2 separate regions of the Homo sapiens genome follow, and region 1 is linked to region 2. Evidence: fine-mapped expression QTL. Tissue or cell type: blood mononuclear cells. Region 2 holds a variant in brackets; the other region holds the start of a gene. All regions are shown on one strand. Distances are from middle to middle.

Region 1 (8,184 bases), 32 kb after region 2:
ACATATCAAATTGACCCTAAGGTAATATTGCTGCATTAGAACTGAGCTGGTGGGAGGGATGTTAAGAAATTAGGGAGAAATTGTTAATCTACAGAAAGACCATCATATAAGGTTCTGTGTGTAGCCAAACATACACATTTGATGTTCTGATGTTTGCTATTTTAGTGGAACTATAGCTATAAAATGTATTCAATCAGTAGAATTAAAACATATCCCAGTCCACAAAAAACTAAGAGAGAAATTATACAGGAATGATCAAGAATCTGCACAGTTCTCATAATCTCATTACTACAGAGAAAAGGAGAAAGGGAAGCATCAAGGTAGTATTTGAGACGAATTTAAGAAGACCACTCATTCAATAAAAGTTTGGTGGGCCAACAAGGTGCCATGTATTGGTCTGGTGATATAGCAGTGATCCAAAGTCTTTCACTTCAGGGAGCTGACATTCCAGAAGGGGTAGTCAGAAAATAATTTTTTTAACAAAAGTAACATGGTTATATAAACACTAGGGAGAAAAATAAAGTAGGAAATGGAGGCAGGTTGATACTCACATAACATGAATATGGCTATCTGGGGAAGAATACTCCAACAAAGGGAACAGCAAACACAAAGCCTCTGAGACTGGAGCACTTAACACATGCAAGGACTGATCAATAGGCTAACACAGGTGGACCAATGAAAAGAGTGACAAGTTAGAAATGAGATAAAAAATGAGCTGTTTGTGGCAAAGGAAAGCCAAGATCATGTAGGCCATTCTAAATTCTTCAGCTTTGGCCAGGTGTGGTGGCTCACATCTGTAATCCCAACACTTTGGGAGGCCGAGGCGGGTGGATCACCTGAGGTCAGAAGTTCGAGACCGGCCTGGCCAACATGGTGAAACCCCGTCTCTACTAAAAATACAAAACGTAGCCAAGTGTGCTGGCACGTGCCTGTAGTCCCAGCTACTCGGGAGGCTGAGGCAGGAGAATTGCTTGAACCCAGAAGACAGAGGCTGCGGTGTGCTGAGATCATGCCACTGCACTCCAGCCTGGGTGGCAGAGCAAGACTCCATCTCAAAAAAATAAATAAAAATAAAAATAAAATAATAATAATACAAAAATTAGCTGGGTGTGGTGGCGGGCACCTGTAATCCCAGCTACTTGGGAGGCTGAGGAGGAGAATCACTTGAACCCAGGAAGCAGAGGTTGCAGTGAGCCGAGACTGCGCCATTGCACTCCAGCCTGGGTGACAGAGCGAAACTCCATCTCAAAAAATAAGTACATAAATAGACAAAAAATAAAAACAAATTCTTCAGATTTTACCCTGAGTGTGATGAGAGATTACTGGAAGGCTCTGAGTGAGAAGTAATATGATCTCACTCATTTCATTAGGATTGCTGTGGCTACTGTGTGGAGAATAGACTTTAGAGAGTAATAGTGGAAGCAGAAGACAAGAAGCTACTGAAATATTATGAACAAAAGATGATGGTAGTATCAGACAGGATGGAGAAATAGAGATACTAAGAAGTCGGACTCTAGATAAAAATCTAGAAGGCCCACAAGGTTCATTGATGGATTGGGTTTGGGATGTGAAGGAGAGGAGGAGGACACACAAGAGGTAATGCTGAGCAGGTAAATCTATGAGATCAGAGCCCAAGGAAAGTTCCGAGGTAGGTACTTAAATTTTGAAGTCTTCAGTATGTAGCATTATTTAAAACACAAGACTGGATGAGATCACTCAGGGAAAAGAGGTCTGAGATCTAAGCTCTGGAGCATTCCATTGATTAGAGGTCATGGAGATGAGAAGGAGCTGGTAAAGGAAATTAAAAAAAAAACAATTATTCACAGCCATTCAGGTGGGAGGAGAATTGAGAAAGAGAAGCATCCCAGAATCCAATGGGGAGGAGAAAAGGAACTGTAATATATGCTGCCAATAGATCAAATAAAATCACGAAAATCAACTAAAACTGACCAATGGATTAAGCAAAGTGGAATTCATTGGTGACCTTGACAGCAGTGGGTTTAAGGAAGAACGAGAACAGGAGATAGCAAATACGGACAACTCTGGAGAAATTTTCCTGTAAGGACAAGCAAATACAAATTAAAACAAGCAGATGGGAGATGTGGCATCAAAAACGAGATCTTTAAGGTGAGGTGATGGTACAATCAGTATGTTTGCTATATTAATGATCTGGAGAGATAGAAAACTTAACCCTAGACAAAGAGAAGTCTTGCTAGAATAATATCCTTAAATAAACAAGTGCACATGTAGAGGTTCTGGCCTTAGCAAGAAGTCAAATTATTCACCCAGAGTAACAGGACAATGCTTTGAGATCCTATGGAAAAGGGTTAAATGGTGGATAAATGGTTGCGGTGGCCATCCTCCAAGATGGCCCTAAATGAATCCCACTTCCTGGAATTCACATAGTTGTAGCCCTCTCCCACTAACAGGGTTGGCCTGTGGGATCAAGCACATACAGCAGGAAGTGATGGTATGCCACTTCAGAAATTAGGTCATAAAGACTCTGCCCTTCATCTTGGGTACAAGGTCTCTTGAATCATTTGCTCTGAAGTAAGCCAGCTGCTGTGACATGAACAGCCCCATGGAGAGGCCCACAGAGCAAGGAACTGAGGCCTCTTGCCAACAGCCCAGTGAGTGAGCTTAGAGGCAGATGATCCAAACCAAGTCAATTCCGCAGAGACTGACAATCCAGCCAAGGGTTTCACTGAAACCTCATGAGTGACCTTGAGCCAGAAACAGCCAGCTAAGCCACTCTTGGATTCCAGACCTTCAAAAACTATGAGGTAATAAATTTTTTTTTAAACTACTAAGTTTTGAGACAATTTGTTACACGGCAATAGATAACTAATACAATGGGTCTCACTGAGCTGTAATCACAAATTGCTGGGCACACAATTCACTATAATCTCACCTACTGGCATGCAATGACTTCAGATGACCTCCCCTGTCCTGCTGCATGCAGTTACCTCATGAAATACAGTCGCTGAGAAAGAGGGTAGGATAAAAGGAGTCAGCTTTATATAACTTAACATCCCTGATGCTCTTTTTTTTTTTTTCAAGAGATGTGGTAAAAGAATGCCACTACCACCCTCTCCTTTCTCAACAAAGCAATTTAGAGGGTTCCCGAATGACCTACATCAACAATTGGCCTGAACTAATCAAACACATCATTCAGATTCCCTCAGTAAAATATTGAATACCAAACAGCTATGTTTCAGCAAAGGAAAGGGCAGGGGAGCGAAACTGAAGGACGAAAATACAACTTTGGTCCTCATCAGGGAGACTTCTCTTTTCTTACCTCAGGTTTATTACAACGCAACTTTTAAGAACTTGAGCTATTCCAGGCAGAAGGTCACATCCTTGAGGTAACCAGAGAGAAGCATTAGTTACTTACATGTCACAAGAATATTTTCGATCCCACTGCCTGACATTGCCATTTAGGTGTTTATCAATCATCTCACACTTAACCAGATAAGTGAACTGAACTCCTTTCCCCCAGATCTGTTCCTCCAATCTACCCTACCTTAGCAAAGGAAAACGTCCCACCCGCCAACTGCCCAAATCAAAAGCCTGCAAATCACCCGAGGTCCTGGCTCTCACGGGAGGGACTCCATTAGGGTCCCAGGGGCTGCATTAAGAGTCCCGACAGCGACGCAGTAAATGAGACAAGACGCTGCGGTAGGGGAGAGAGACCCATACATTCAAATGCCTTAAGGGGTCTGGGCCTACAGGTCTCCAGAACTGGGGAGGGCCTGGGGTTACAAAGCAGTTTTCAGATTTTTAAATACATTGAGCGCCAAAAGAGACCCCGCGGGGGCGATGGGGGAGGGGAGCGCACTGGGAGCCAGGAAAGGCCCCTTCTCCAGGAGGCCCGGGCCCAGCCCGGGGGTGGGGGCGTCTGCGTGAGGGAGTGGAGGCTGATGTAAAAGTGGCGCCCGCTGAGATTAGGGAAGGGGGTGTGCGTGAGGGGATCGTGGGACCTGCTTCTGCCCTGCACTCCCCCACAGAAAGCGGCTGTATTGCAAAGGCCGCTCCGGCAGCGCACGGCCAAGCGCGGTGTCGCGACCCGCAGGGCTGCGGCTCGCCATGAAATCCCTCAAGTCTCCCCTCAGGGAACGCTGAAGCCGCGCCACGCCCCCGTCCTTACCAGTCCGGATCAGCTGCTGTTCGCGAGCTGCCGGCCACGCACCAGCCCCGGAGGCGCTCCCGGGGCACAGCCGGCGGCGACTACGCCTCCTCAGGCCCCCGGCGCCGCCGACGCGCACGCCTCCACACGCGCGCGTCCAGTGGAGACCTGCGATTGGCTGCCAGGTGCCGGCGCGAGATCGGCGCGGCTCCGAGCTAGGAGCATGCGCGCGCTCTGACGCCCCTGGTGGCGACGGCTGGACGCGGGGTTAAATTGAGAAGGAGGAGGGCAGCAGCAATACCCCTGAGGCCTTGAAAGGATCTTGGGTTCCGGATCACGGTTCCAGGCAGTCAGGGTTCCAGAGCTGAGGGGGTATCCAAGCAGTCAGGGTTCCAGAGCTGAGGAGCATCCAGGCAGTCAGGGTTCCAGAGCTGAGGGGCACCCAGGCAGTCAGGGTTCCAGAGCTGTCGCAGCCAGGGCTTGGGGTGGGGGGTAGGCTTCCAGTCCATCAGGGGATGGTTTGCCCACCAGAAGGCCAGCTGTTATAATTCTCAGGTGTGGTCCCTTTGTTGACTATCCATGCTTAAGGGATTGTGAGGAAACAACTGAACCTAACATCTGTCCTCTTCTAGTTACATCTGGGGCCAGTTGAATCCAGCCTGCCACCTGTTTTTGTACAGCTGGCAGCAAGCTAAGAACCGATTTCACGTTTTTTTAATGGCTAAAAAGAGAATATTTTGTGGCATGTGAAAATTATATGAAATTCAAAATTCAGTGTCCATAAATAAAGTTTTATTGGAACAACAAACATGCCCATTCCTTTCGGTATTATTTATGCCTGTTTTCCTGCTTCAACAGCAAAGTTGATTAATTGCCAGAGACCATGTATGAAAAGCTTAAAATATTTACTGTCTGGCCCTTTACAGAAAGTTTGCCCACTCAGTTTACTTGCAGCTTTGATTTTTTTTTTGAATTGACCAATTCTGCCAAAAGTCTATTTTAGCAATCTTTTTGGGGGGCGGGTAAATCGCTTTTGGTTTAATTAATCTATAATGTTATTTTCTTATCTATTTTATCTATTTCTTCCATTCTGTTATTTTCTTCCTTCGTGACTTCATAGGCTTGTTCTGTTACTTCTCATTACAACTTTTGGAGAAAAATGCCTACCTCGTTTGCTTGTAAACTTTTTTGTTTCTCTTGTATTTAATGCTATAAATTTACCTTTAAGTACCAGTTTAACTGTGTCTCACCAGTCCGCTTGGTAATATGTTCATTATCCTTCAATTAGATATGTCCTAATTTTGCTAGTTGTTAGAAATGCTTGTTCCCTGGTGCCGCAAAGAAATAGCACTTGAACATAAATTTAATTTTCTCAGCAAGGCCATTTTCACTTTCTGCAGAAAGGGTACACTCGCCAGCAGTTTTGCCACGAGAGTACCCCAAACAAAGGATACAGGGTTATTTATAACCTGACGCATCCACCCTACTGCTGTGTCCGGTTTCCATTGGCTGGAACAGGACCTCACATTCTGTGTTTGTCCCGATTGGCTAACAACTTAGAACTTTCTAAAAGAGGCAAAGGCAGAGGAGAACAAAGGAAGGAGGATGTAACTTGTAGAATGCTGAGAAAGGTAAAAACACCTCCAAATAGGAAGAGGAACAGGCTATGACCTAATGCTTGCTTGGACCAGTATAAGCATGCAAGGGCAAATATTTAGGCTAAATTGTGGGAGCTAAGAACACAAAGTATATTAATTTCTTTATTACGGCTAGCAGATATCTAAGAATGTTAGCACAGGTCTTTGAATAAATTTTACTTCTAAGAGAAGTTACTATTTATTCGTAATTAGACAGGGAGGAAAGTCTTTGAAGAGGAACCTCTATTTTTTACATAGTGATTCTTTCTAACACAAGGGTTATATAGTATATGTTATTTATTTTTGAAATCTATGAGATTTTTAAAAGATTTTTTAATTGTATTATAATCAAATCACATGGCCTAAATATTACTCACCCTTGCATTTGAAGATTTCTGTTCAGTGAAGTGTACCATAGTCAAAATGAAGAGATCATAGATGTAAAGAAGATATTTGCAGTATCTAAAATGTATATATGAGGCTGATATGTAAAGATATTTGCATTATCTAAAATGTATATATGAGGCTGATATGTAAAGAAGATATTTGCAATATCTAAAATGTACGTAAGAGGCCTGGCACGGTGGCTCACACCTGTAATCCCAGCATTTTTGGAGACCAAGGCAGGCAGATCACTTGAGGTCAGGAGTTCAAGACCAGCCTGGCCAACATGGTGAAACCCCATTTTTGTACAAAAAATACAAAAATTAGCTGGGTGTGGTGGCACGCGCCTGTAGTCCTAGCTACTCGGGAGGCTGAGGCATGAGAACTGTTTGAACCTGGGAGGCAGAGGTTGCAGTGAGCTGAGATTGCACCACTGTACTCCAGCCTTGGGCAACAGAGCGAGACTCCGTCTCAAAAAATAATAACATGAAAAATAAATCTATGAGAAATGATCTTCTTTTGGCTTCATAATAATTCCAATGTCCATCAGTAAATTAGTATCAACTAAGCTCCAGGCTTTATTCAAATGTCACTAGTTTTTCCCATCATCCTTTTTGTTCCAGATTCCCACCCAGGATACTGAATTGTACTTGGTCATTTTGTGTTCTTAGCCTTCTGTGGTCTGTGACAGTTTCTTAAACTTTTCTTGCTTTTCATGACCTTGACAATTTTAAGAAGTAAAGGTCAGGTATTTTTCAGAGTGTCTCTCAATTTAGGTTTGATGTTTTTCTCATGGTTACACTGGGGTTATGGTTTTTAGAAGACTATCACAGACATGATGTGTCTTTCTCATAATTTCTCATCAGCGATCCATGCTATCAATAAGACTTCCTACTGGCTTCTCCGCTGTAAATTACTTCCCCCCCCTTTCATACCTTATTCTAAATCTTGCCTACATGCAGGAAGGCCGTGAGGTCTCATTGAAGGAAAATTATCTACACAAGTTACTTTGCAATTCTTCTTTAAGGAAGATTTGTCTCTTCTTCCTTTAGTTTTAAATTAATCAAAAATAGCTTTTTAGTTTTAAATTAATCAAAAATAAAATAAAAAATTTAGTACCTCAGTCATACTTGCCACATTTCAACAGATCAATAGTCACCTGTAGCATATTGGACAGAGCAGAAGTAGAGCATTTTCATCATTGCAGAAAGATCTACGGACAGCACTGACTTAGATCATTAGTCAACCTTTCTTCTTCCCAAATATATGCATTTAGAAATATAAATTCCCATGAAATGCTTTAGTTCCATCCCATAAATTTTGTGGCTGTTTTCAATATCTTTCAGTTCAACATTTTCCTTTTTTCACTGCAATTTCTTAGAGGAGCTATGGGTTATTCAGAATGAGGACCAGGACTGGGGTGAGATAAGCAAGGAGGCTGAGGCACATTAAGGAGAGACCCACGCCCAGCTTCAGGTATGGCATATTGTCACCTTAGGTTCCCTGCTTGCCTCACCCTAGTCCCAGCCCTGTTTAGAAATGTATTGCCTAATTTAGGAACTTTGGGTTTTTTTTCAGTGATCTTTCTGTTACTGATTTGTAAGTTGATTCCCGTGTACTCAGTGGGTAACTACAAAGAGCCCCACAGCTAACATCACAATTAAAGTAAACTATTCTACCTGAGTTTGAGACCAAGAAAAGCACACCCATGAAAGCCACTTCAATTCGCAAAGCATTTGGAATAGCCAAGGCAATTTTGAACACCAAAGTTGGAGAAATGAAACTACCACACGGAGGATTATGCAAAGCTACAATAATTAAGATACTGCAGCATTAGCACAAGGATAGAGAACAGGACAAATGAAATGAAATAGATTCCAGAAACACATATATACAATCATACCTGATTCACAGTTTCCACGGCAATACAGTAGGGAAGGAGTGGTCTTTTTAGTAAGTGGTGCTGATTGATTTTGGGTATGTATATGAAAAAATTAGTCTTCATGCCTTATCACACCATTAACAAAAAATCAGTTT
Region 2 (8,184 bases):
CAGCCTGGGCGACAGATTGAGACTCCGTCTCCAAAAATAAAAGGCACCAATGACTGTGTGTTGAGTGACCAATTGTGTTGAGCCATAGAGGAAAGATGTAGGCACCAGTGACTTGTCCAGGATCAGGGATGACACACTTCTTTTTCTTGATAGCTATTCTGTCCTCTCCCAGACATTTTTTTTTTTTTTTTAACACTGCTGTCGCCCAGGCAGGAGTGCAGACATGGCTCATTGCAGCCTGAACCTCCTGGGCTCAAATCTCCCACCTCAGGCTCCCAAGTAGCTGGGACCACAGGCATGTGCCACTATGCTTGGCTATTTTTTTTTTTTATGTTTCGTATAGATAGGGTCTCGCTATGTTACCCAGGCTGGTCCTGAACTCCTGGCCTCAAATGATCCTCCTGCCTTGGCCTCCCAAAGTGCTGAGATTGCAGGCATGAGCCGCCTCACCTGGCCCCTCTCCCAAACTTTCTTTTGAGGTTAAATAATGTAAAAAGGAAGAGTGTGTAGAACAAAAGTAATAGCTAATGTAAAAAAAAAAGTTTAAAACAAAAATTATCCATATCTCACTACTTAGAGATAACCATTATATATATTTTGACAACAAATACCCTTCTGGATTTCTGCATTTGCTCTGTCAGATGTTAGTTGAGGTGGGACAGGGAAAGGGGTTAAGGGAGGAGGCAAGGAAAGAAGGGTCAGAATGCAATTTATCTTACGAGGCGTTTTCCCATTTAGTAATACATAATCAACATCTCTGCATGTTTTCAAGTATATAAAGCTCCTTAGATCATTACTTATTCATAGTATTACAGGGATTCTATGTTTTCTCTATTATAAACTACATGTTGTTGAACTTCTTTCAAACTACATCTATTCATACAGCAAGTCATTTACTTTGTAAAAATTCCTAAACTTAAATATCTGGTTCAACACAAGTATGCAAAATTTTGTACAGATTTTATTTACCATAGAACTATGGCTACAAATTAAATGAAAATAATAGTAATAAATTATAATAATATAGGAGTCACCTCACAGATGTTTCCAGTCACAAAGTAAGGCTTTTCCTGCTTTGTACTTAAGTTGAAATCCCCCCAAAGTGCATAAAGGCGGATACATCCTTTCTAGGGTACCCTTTTCACCCTGTAGATGAACCCTGACGTGGCCAACTGATCTACCGACAGTAGTACACTCTAGATGTCTTTTATTAAAATAATAGATAATAGAGTAATCCACAAACTAGGACCTTACACACATACGCACAGAGCAAAAGCTCCTGAGGTGCAGAGCCTACAGGAAACCTCATCAAAAGCTCTGATGGCTCCTGTCGATGAGCACCTTTAGGAGGGGCTGCTGTTGTCTTAAGTCAGAACAGAGATAGTTTGTGCCTCTCCATTTTGAAATGCTCCAGATTTCCCTTCCCTGTCTTGGTCTCTCAGAGCCTAATGTCTGTGCTGGACTAGCATAGTCAGTCTTTGGTTATGTGTCTGTATTTTCTATTTAAAGTAGTCTAGGCTGGGTGCAGTGGCTCACACCTGTAATCCCAGCACTTTGGGAGGCCGAAGTGGGTGGATCACAAAGTCAGGAGTTACAGACCACCCTGACCAACATGGTGAAACCCCATCTCTACTAAAGATACAAAAAATTAGTTGGGCGTGGTGGCGAATGCCTGTAATCCCAGCTACTCAGGAGGCCGAGGCAGGAGAATCGCTTGAACCCGGGAGGTAGAGGTTGCAGTGAGCTGAGATCACACCATTGCACTCCAGCCTGGGAAACAGGGCGAGACTCCATCTCAAAAAAAAAAGAAAAAAAAAACATTAGTCGGGGTGGCGGCGGGCGCCTGTAATCCCAGCTACTCAGAAGGCTGAGGCTGGAGAATCACTGAACCCAGGAGGCAGAGGTTGCAGTGAGCTGAGATTGCACCACTGCACTCCAACCTGGGCAACAGAGGGAGACTCCGTCTAAAAAACTAAAATAAAATAAGATACTCTAAAGTAAATTATTTAAATAATTCTCATCTTAAGCAAGCAGTTTATTCAGCATGAGGTTCAAAGTAAATAACTTCAAATCAGATGGTCATGAATATAACTTCTTTAGTCATTCAAAACACTCAGATAAACAAGACGGATAACACTGAAATGAAATACAGACAATGCAGTGGATTTTCAACAATAACTACAAAAAGGACTGAACAAAGAGACAAACAATGAATGTGGGCTTGCCTAGGAAATACAGTAGAAATGTCAAAAAAAGTTAAATGAATGAGAGGGGTACTACAATCCTCCACCCCAGGAAACCACAGCAAGGTGCCGTGGATCCTCTCTGAAGCCTGACGTTCAGGTTGTTCATATTTTAGGTACCCTGGACACTTGCTCATAGGCCCTGCAAGAGGTTACAGCAGCTGTTCCCTCCCACAGGGCAAAGCCAGATCTCACAGCCACCTAGGCCTCCCCATGACAGGGAGTTGCTCCCTGGGACAAAGACCAGAATAGGAGGAGGAGGGAGAGATAAAAGGCTCAGATTTGCATAATGTGTCCCACAAATACCTAACCTTTATGCAAGAGGTGAGGAGGGCATAAAAGAGCCATTAGAGAGTCCAACACTAGCTGTGAGGCCAGTGGGCCCTTGGAACTTCAGCACCGTGGTCTAGACTCCTCTCCTCCTCCTCACTCAGTCACTGCCCAGGTTCACAGAGATTTCAGATCAGCCTTTAGAATGATTCTTCTGCCTTCTTTTGGGAGAAAGTGGGTCTAGGAAAAATAGAATGCAAATATTTTTCCAATCCATAGGGAACAATAAGAGGTATACTAGATGAAGAGTTTATGGTCAAATATTTTTTCAAAAAAAAAATCTCTCTATGATGTAATTCTGACTGATAATAGCAAAGAAAACAAGCTCCTTATTTTATATAAAAAATTTTTCTTTTTTTTTTTTTTTTTGAGATGGAGTCTTGCTCTGTCACCTAGGCTGGAGTGCAATGGCACGATCTTGGCTCACTGCAACCTCCACCTCCTGGGTTCAAGTGATTCTCCTGCCTCAACCTCCTAGGGATTACAACCTCCTAGTAGCTGGGATTACAGGCAGCCGCCACAACGCCCGGCTAATTTTTGTATTTTTAGTAGAGACAGGGTTTCACCATGTTGGTCAGGCTGGTCTCAAACTCCTGACCTCGTGATCCGCCCGCCTCGGCCTCCCAAAGTGCTGGGATTACAGGCATGAGCCAACGCGCCTGGCCTAAAAAATTTTTCAAAACAATGCAAGTTTACTACATAAAATCTGGCTTTTTTTTTTTTTTTTTTTTTTTTTAATGATGTGGTCCTGCTCTGTCATTCAGGCTGGAGTGCAGTGGCACAATCACTGCTTATTGCAGGCTTGACCTCCCAGGTTCAAGCTATCCTCCCCTACCTCAATCTCCCAAGTGGCTGGGAACATAGGTGTGTACCACCACACTTGGCTAATTTATTTATTTTCTGTACAGCCTGGATCCCCCTGTGTTGCCCAGGCTGGTCTTGAACTTCTGGGCTCAAGCTATCCTTCCTCCTCAGCCTCCTAAAATTCCGGAATTACAGGCGTGAGCCACCATGCCCGACCTAGAAGTATTTGTTTCAAGGAGCATATTTAACTACGCCGTAAAGACCAAATAGTTCAGAAGTTAGATGTTACAATTTTAGTCTCTTCTCCTACTTCTTCTTTTTTTTTTTTTTTTTTTTTTTTGAGACAGAGTCTCACTCTGTCACCCAGGCTGGAGTGCAGTGGTGCAATCTTGGCTCACTGCAATCTCTGCCTCCTGGGGGGGTCAAGCAATTCTCCTGCCTCAGCCTCCCGAGCAGCTGGGAGTACGGGCATCTGCCACCACGCCGGCTAATTTTTGTATTTTTAGTAGAGACGGTGTTTCTCCACGTTGGCCAGGCTGGTCTGGAACTCCTGAGCTCAAGTGATTTGCCCCGCCTCGGCCTCCCAAAGTGCTGGGATTACAGGTGTGAACCGCCGCGCCTGGCTGTTCTTTCACATATTTTCTCCATAGTTCAGATCACAATGTATACAAATTTTTTTCCTGCTAGTTTTCTTTCACATTACTGCAATCTATCTCTTTTAAAAAAAGTATATAGTGCAGCTATTTCAGCCAGGCACGGTGGTTCATGCCTGTAATCCCAGCACTTTGGGAGGCAGAGGCGGCTGACCACTTGGGGCCAATGAGTTTGAGACCAGCCTGGGCAATGTGGTGAAACCCCATCTCTACTAAAATTACAAAAAAATAATTAGCCGGGCGTGGGGGCCCGCGGCTGTAATCCCAGCTCCTCAGGAGGCTGAGGCAGGAGAATCTCTTGACCGCAGGAGGCGGAGGTTGCCGTGAGCCGAAATAGTGCCACTGCACTCCAGCCTGGGCGACAGAGTGAGTGAGGCTCCGCCTCAAAAAAAAACCAAACCAAAACAACAATAACGAAAAACAACAAAAAAAGTAGATTGTGCAGCTAT[T/G]AAATGAAAAGTACAAAACTGTTCAGTTTCCAGGCATTTAAAATTATTTCTGGCCAGGCCTGGTGGCTCATGCCTGTAATCCCAGCACTTTGGGAGGCCGAGGTGGGCACATCACCTGAGATCAGGAGTTTGAGACTAGCCTGACCAACATGGAGATACCCTGTCTCTAACTAAAAAAAAAAAAAAAAATTATTTCTACTTTACATTTACATTAGTACAACCAAAGTATTGATGAATTATCTTACATACTCAATTTTGGATATATACATAAACATTCATTCTGTAAATTTTTATTGGATATGTTAAAAGCATCCCATGAGGCCAGCAGTGGCTCACGCCTGTAATCCCAGCATTTTGGGAGGCCAAGGCAGGTGGATCACCTGAAGTCAGGAGTTTGAGACCAGCCCGGCCTACATGGTGAAACCCTGTCTCTACTAAAAATACAAAAAATTAGCCGGGCATGGTGGCAGGTGCCTGTAGTCCCAGCTACTTGGGAGGCTGAGGCAGGAGAACTGCTTGACCCCTGGAGGCAGAGGTTGCAGTGAGCCGAGATTGCGCCATTGAACTCCAGCCTGGGCAGCAGAGTGAGACTTTGTCTCAAAAAAAAAAAAAAAAGCATCCTATGAAAAAAATGAAATTATTACCTTTTTATTCATATATTGAAATAACTTCCAAAAAGGCTTATGCCAATTGAAACTCCTTTTAATACATCCTCACTGACAGTAAACATTACAATTTATATAATATTCATCAGTACGCTACCATTGCTTTAATTCCCATTTTTGTTTTTGCTATGGAGACTAAATATTTTGCATTTATTTACCAATCAGCTATATTTATTCTTTGTGAAATGGACAGGGATTTTTTTCTTTACAACAATTTTATAATAGTGCATTAGAGATTTGTCTTAGTAATCTTTTTTTTTTTGAGATGGAGTCTGGCCCTGTCACCCAGGCTGGAGTGCAATGGTGCGATCTCAGCTCACTGCAACCTCCACCTGCTGGGTTCAAATAATTCTCCTGCCTCAGCCTCCCAAGTAGCTGGGATTACAGGTGCCCACCACCATCATGCCCAGCTAATTTTTGTATTTTTAGTAGAGATGGGGTTTCACCACATTGGCCAGGCTGGTCTCGAACTCCTGACCTTGTGATCTGCCCACCTTGGCCTCCCAAAGTGTTGGAATTACAGGCGTGAGCCAACACACCCGGCCCCCGATTTTTCTTAGTAATCTTTGGAAACACTTCAGAAATATTTTTAATTAGCCCTTTCATAATCTCAGGCTATAATTTTCCTGTTTATATGCCATAAAATGTGAACATGTTACACCGTCAAATAAAAAAAGCAAGGTGCAGAAGACTGTGCATAATATAAATCAGTTATTTAAAAAAAAGAAAAGAAAAAATAAGAAACTATCTGAAAGGCTAAAAAAAGAATCTGAGTTGTTACTTTTTCGATGTTTGAAGAATGTGAATATATTATATACTCAACATTTTAAAATAAATGAACTTTAAAAAGAATCCTCTCAAAATGGTGTCAGCCACAATGGCACACCAGAGAGTGGGAAGGCAACACAATGACCATTAACTCAGTTTTAGCTGCCTTCCTTGTATCATAAAAACTTCTAATGTTCCATTTTCCCTGTGGTAACTTCCAAGATGGCCTCCAGTGATTCCCCACCCTCTGGTATTCCTATCTGTATATGGTCCATTCCCACATAGCATCAGGGTTGCTCTGGGTGACCAAGAGTATACAACAGAGTGAAGTTATTTTACCTCCAAGGCTATTATAAAAAACATTGCAATGCCTTCCTTGTTCTCTTTTGGATCACTCATTCTGTAGGAAGCCAGCTGACATGTCATGAGGACCATATGACAAGGAACAGAGGGAGGCCTCCTGCCAATACCCAAGTGAGTTTGAAAGCCCTAGTCAAGCCTTTCACATGATATGGCCCCAGTCAACATCTTAACTGCAACCTCATGAAAGAAGCTGAGACAGCACCACTCAGTTAAGTGACCCCAAATTCCTGACCCTCGGAAACCATGAGATAACAAATAGTGGTGGTTTTAGTTGATAAGTTTGCAGTAATATATTATACAGCAATAGGTAACTAATACAGATTTTAGTACCTGGAAGGGAGGTGCTGGTGTAATACCTAAAATGTAGGAGTGGCTTTGAAACTGGGCAGTGGGCAGAAGCTAAAAAATCTTCAAGGAGATTGTCAGTGCAAGCCTTAGTAGAAAACTGGACTCTGAGAAGGCTCTGGTGTAGCTTAAAATGAAGTGAGGAACATGTTATTAGAAAATTGAGCAAGGGGTTACGTAGTTACGTAGTGGCAGAAAGTTTAGTGACTATCACCTAGTCAGGTGAAAGTAGAAAATGTACCTGAGTCATCTAATTGAGATTTCCAGCCAGAATGCTGAAAGTGCTGATTGGTTTCTTCTTGCTACTTATAGTAAAATCTGAGGGGACAGAAACAAGCTAAGGGAAGAAGTGTTAAACAAAAAAGAGCCAAGAGCCAGTACCTGCTGGTTTTGAAAATTCCCAGTCTTTCCAGATGGCAAAAGATGCTAAAATTAACTGCTCCCAAGCAAAGGTTATATCCAGGGCACTAAAGAAAGGTGCAGAAATATGAAAGATGAGGGTAAAAATCCTTTTTACTTTTTCTTTGAGACAGAGTTTCACCCAGGCTGGAGTGTAACGGCTTGATCTCAGCTCACGGCAACCTCTGCCTCCCAGGTTCAAGTGATTCTCCTGCCTCGGCCTCCCGAGTAGCTGGAGTTACAGGTGCAGGCCACCATGCCCAGCAAATTTTTTTTTTTTTTTTTTTTTTTTTTTTTTAGTAGAGACGGAGTTTCACCATGTTGGCCAGGCTGGTCTTGAACTCCTGACCTCAGGTGATCCACCAGCCTTGGATTACAAGTGTGAGCCACTGCACCCAGTCAGAGGGTAAAATCCTTTAAGGCTCTGAAAGATCAAAAATGATGCTTCAGAGTACAGTAGTCCCCTTTATCTGTGGTTTTACTTTCCATGGTTTCAGTTACCCACAGTCAATTGTGGTCCAAAAATATTAAACGGAAAATTCCAGAAATAAACAATTCATAGGTTTTAGTTTATTTATTTATTTATTTAATGACAGGGTCTTGCTCTGTCCTTCAGGCTGGAGTGCAGTGGCGTGATCTCGGTTCACTGCAACCTCTGCTCCTCGGCCTCAAGCAATCCTCCTACCTCAGTGTATTGAGTAGCTGGGATTACAAGTGCCCACCACCACACCCAACTAACTTTTGTATTTAAGTAGAGATGGGGTTTCACTATGTTGGCCAGGCTGTTCTCAAACTCCTGACCTCAAATGATCTATCTGCCTCAGCCTCCCAAAGTGCTGGGATTAGAGGCGTGAGCCACCACACTCAGCCAACAATTCTTAGGTTTTAAATTGCATGCCATTCTGGTTAGTGTGATGAAATCTAGTGCAGTGGCTCTGAGTTCCATTCAGGACATAAATCATCCCATTGACCAGCATCTCTATGCTGTGTATGCTATGCTCTTGTGGTGTTATAATATACATTGGTTTTGTCCACAGTTCATAACTCCCACAGCCCTTGTTACAGTCTTTTGTTATAATGTTCGGTGTTAGGCCTCAGAGGTAGGCTTCTGACCTTCTGCCATCCTTTTACCTGCCCCAAGGCAGGACTCTAATCTTTCTGATTG

Evidence for each region. PIP is the estimated chance that this variant, and not a neighbour inherited with it, causes the effect. A credible set is the group of variants that fine-mapping cannot tell apart.
Region 1: it holds the start of ZNF280B, and the variant in region 2 is the best candidate, but not a certain one, in a credible set for the expression of ZNF280B in blood mononuclear cells (TOPMed, PIP 0.67).

Annotation. Positions count from the first base shown.
Region 1 is chr22:22,504,512-22,512,695 of GRCh38, forward strand. ZNF280B (zinc finger protein 280B) reads right to left here and starts at 4,231. Exons shown (of 4, transcript NM_080764.4): 1 at 4,148-4,231; 2 at 3,299-3,359. It also overlaps IGL.
Region 2 is chr22:22,472,419-22,480,602 of GRCh38, forward strand. It overlaps IGL. Among named protein-coding and RNA genes, the nearest start is that of ZNF280B, 32 kb to the right of the region's middle. The variant T/G (reference allele first, on the strand shown) is at 4,480.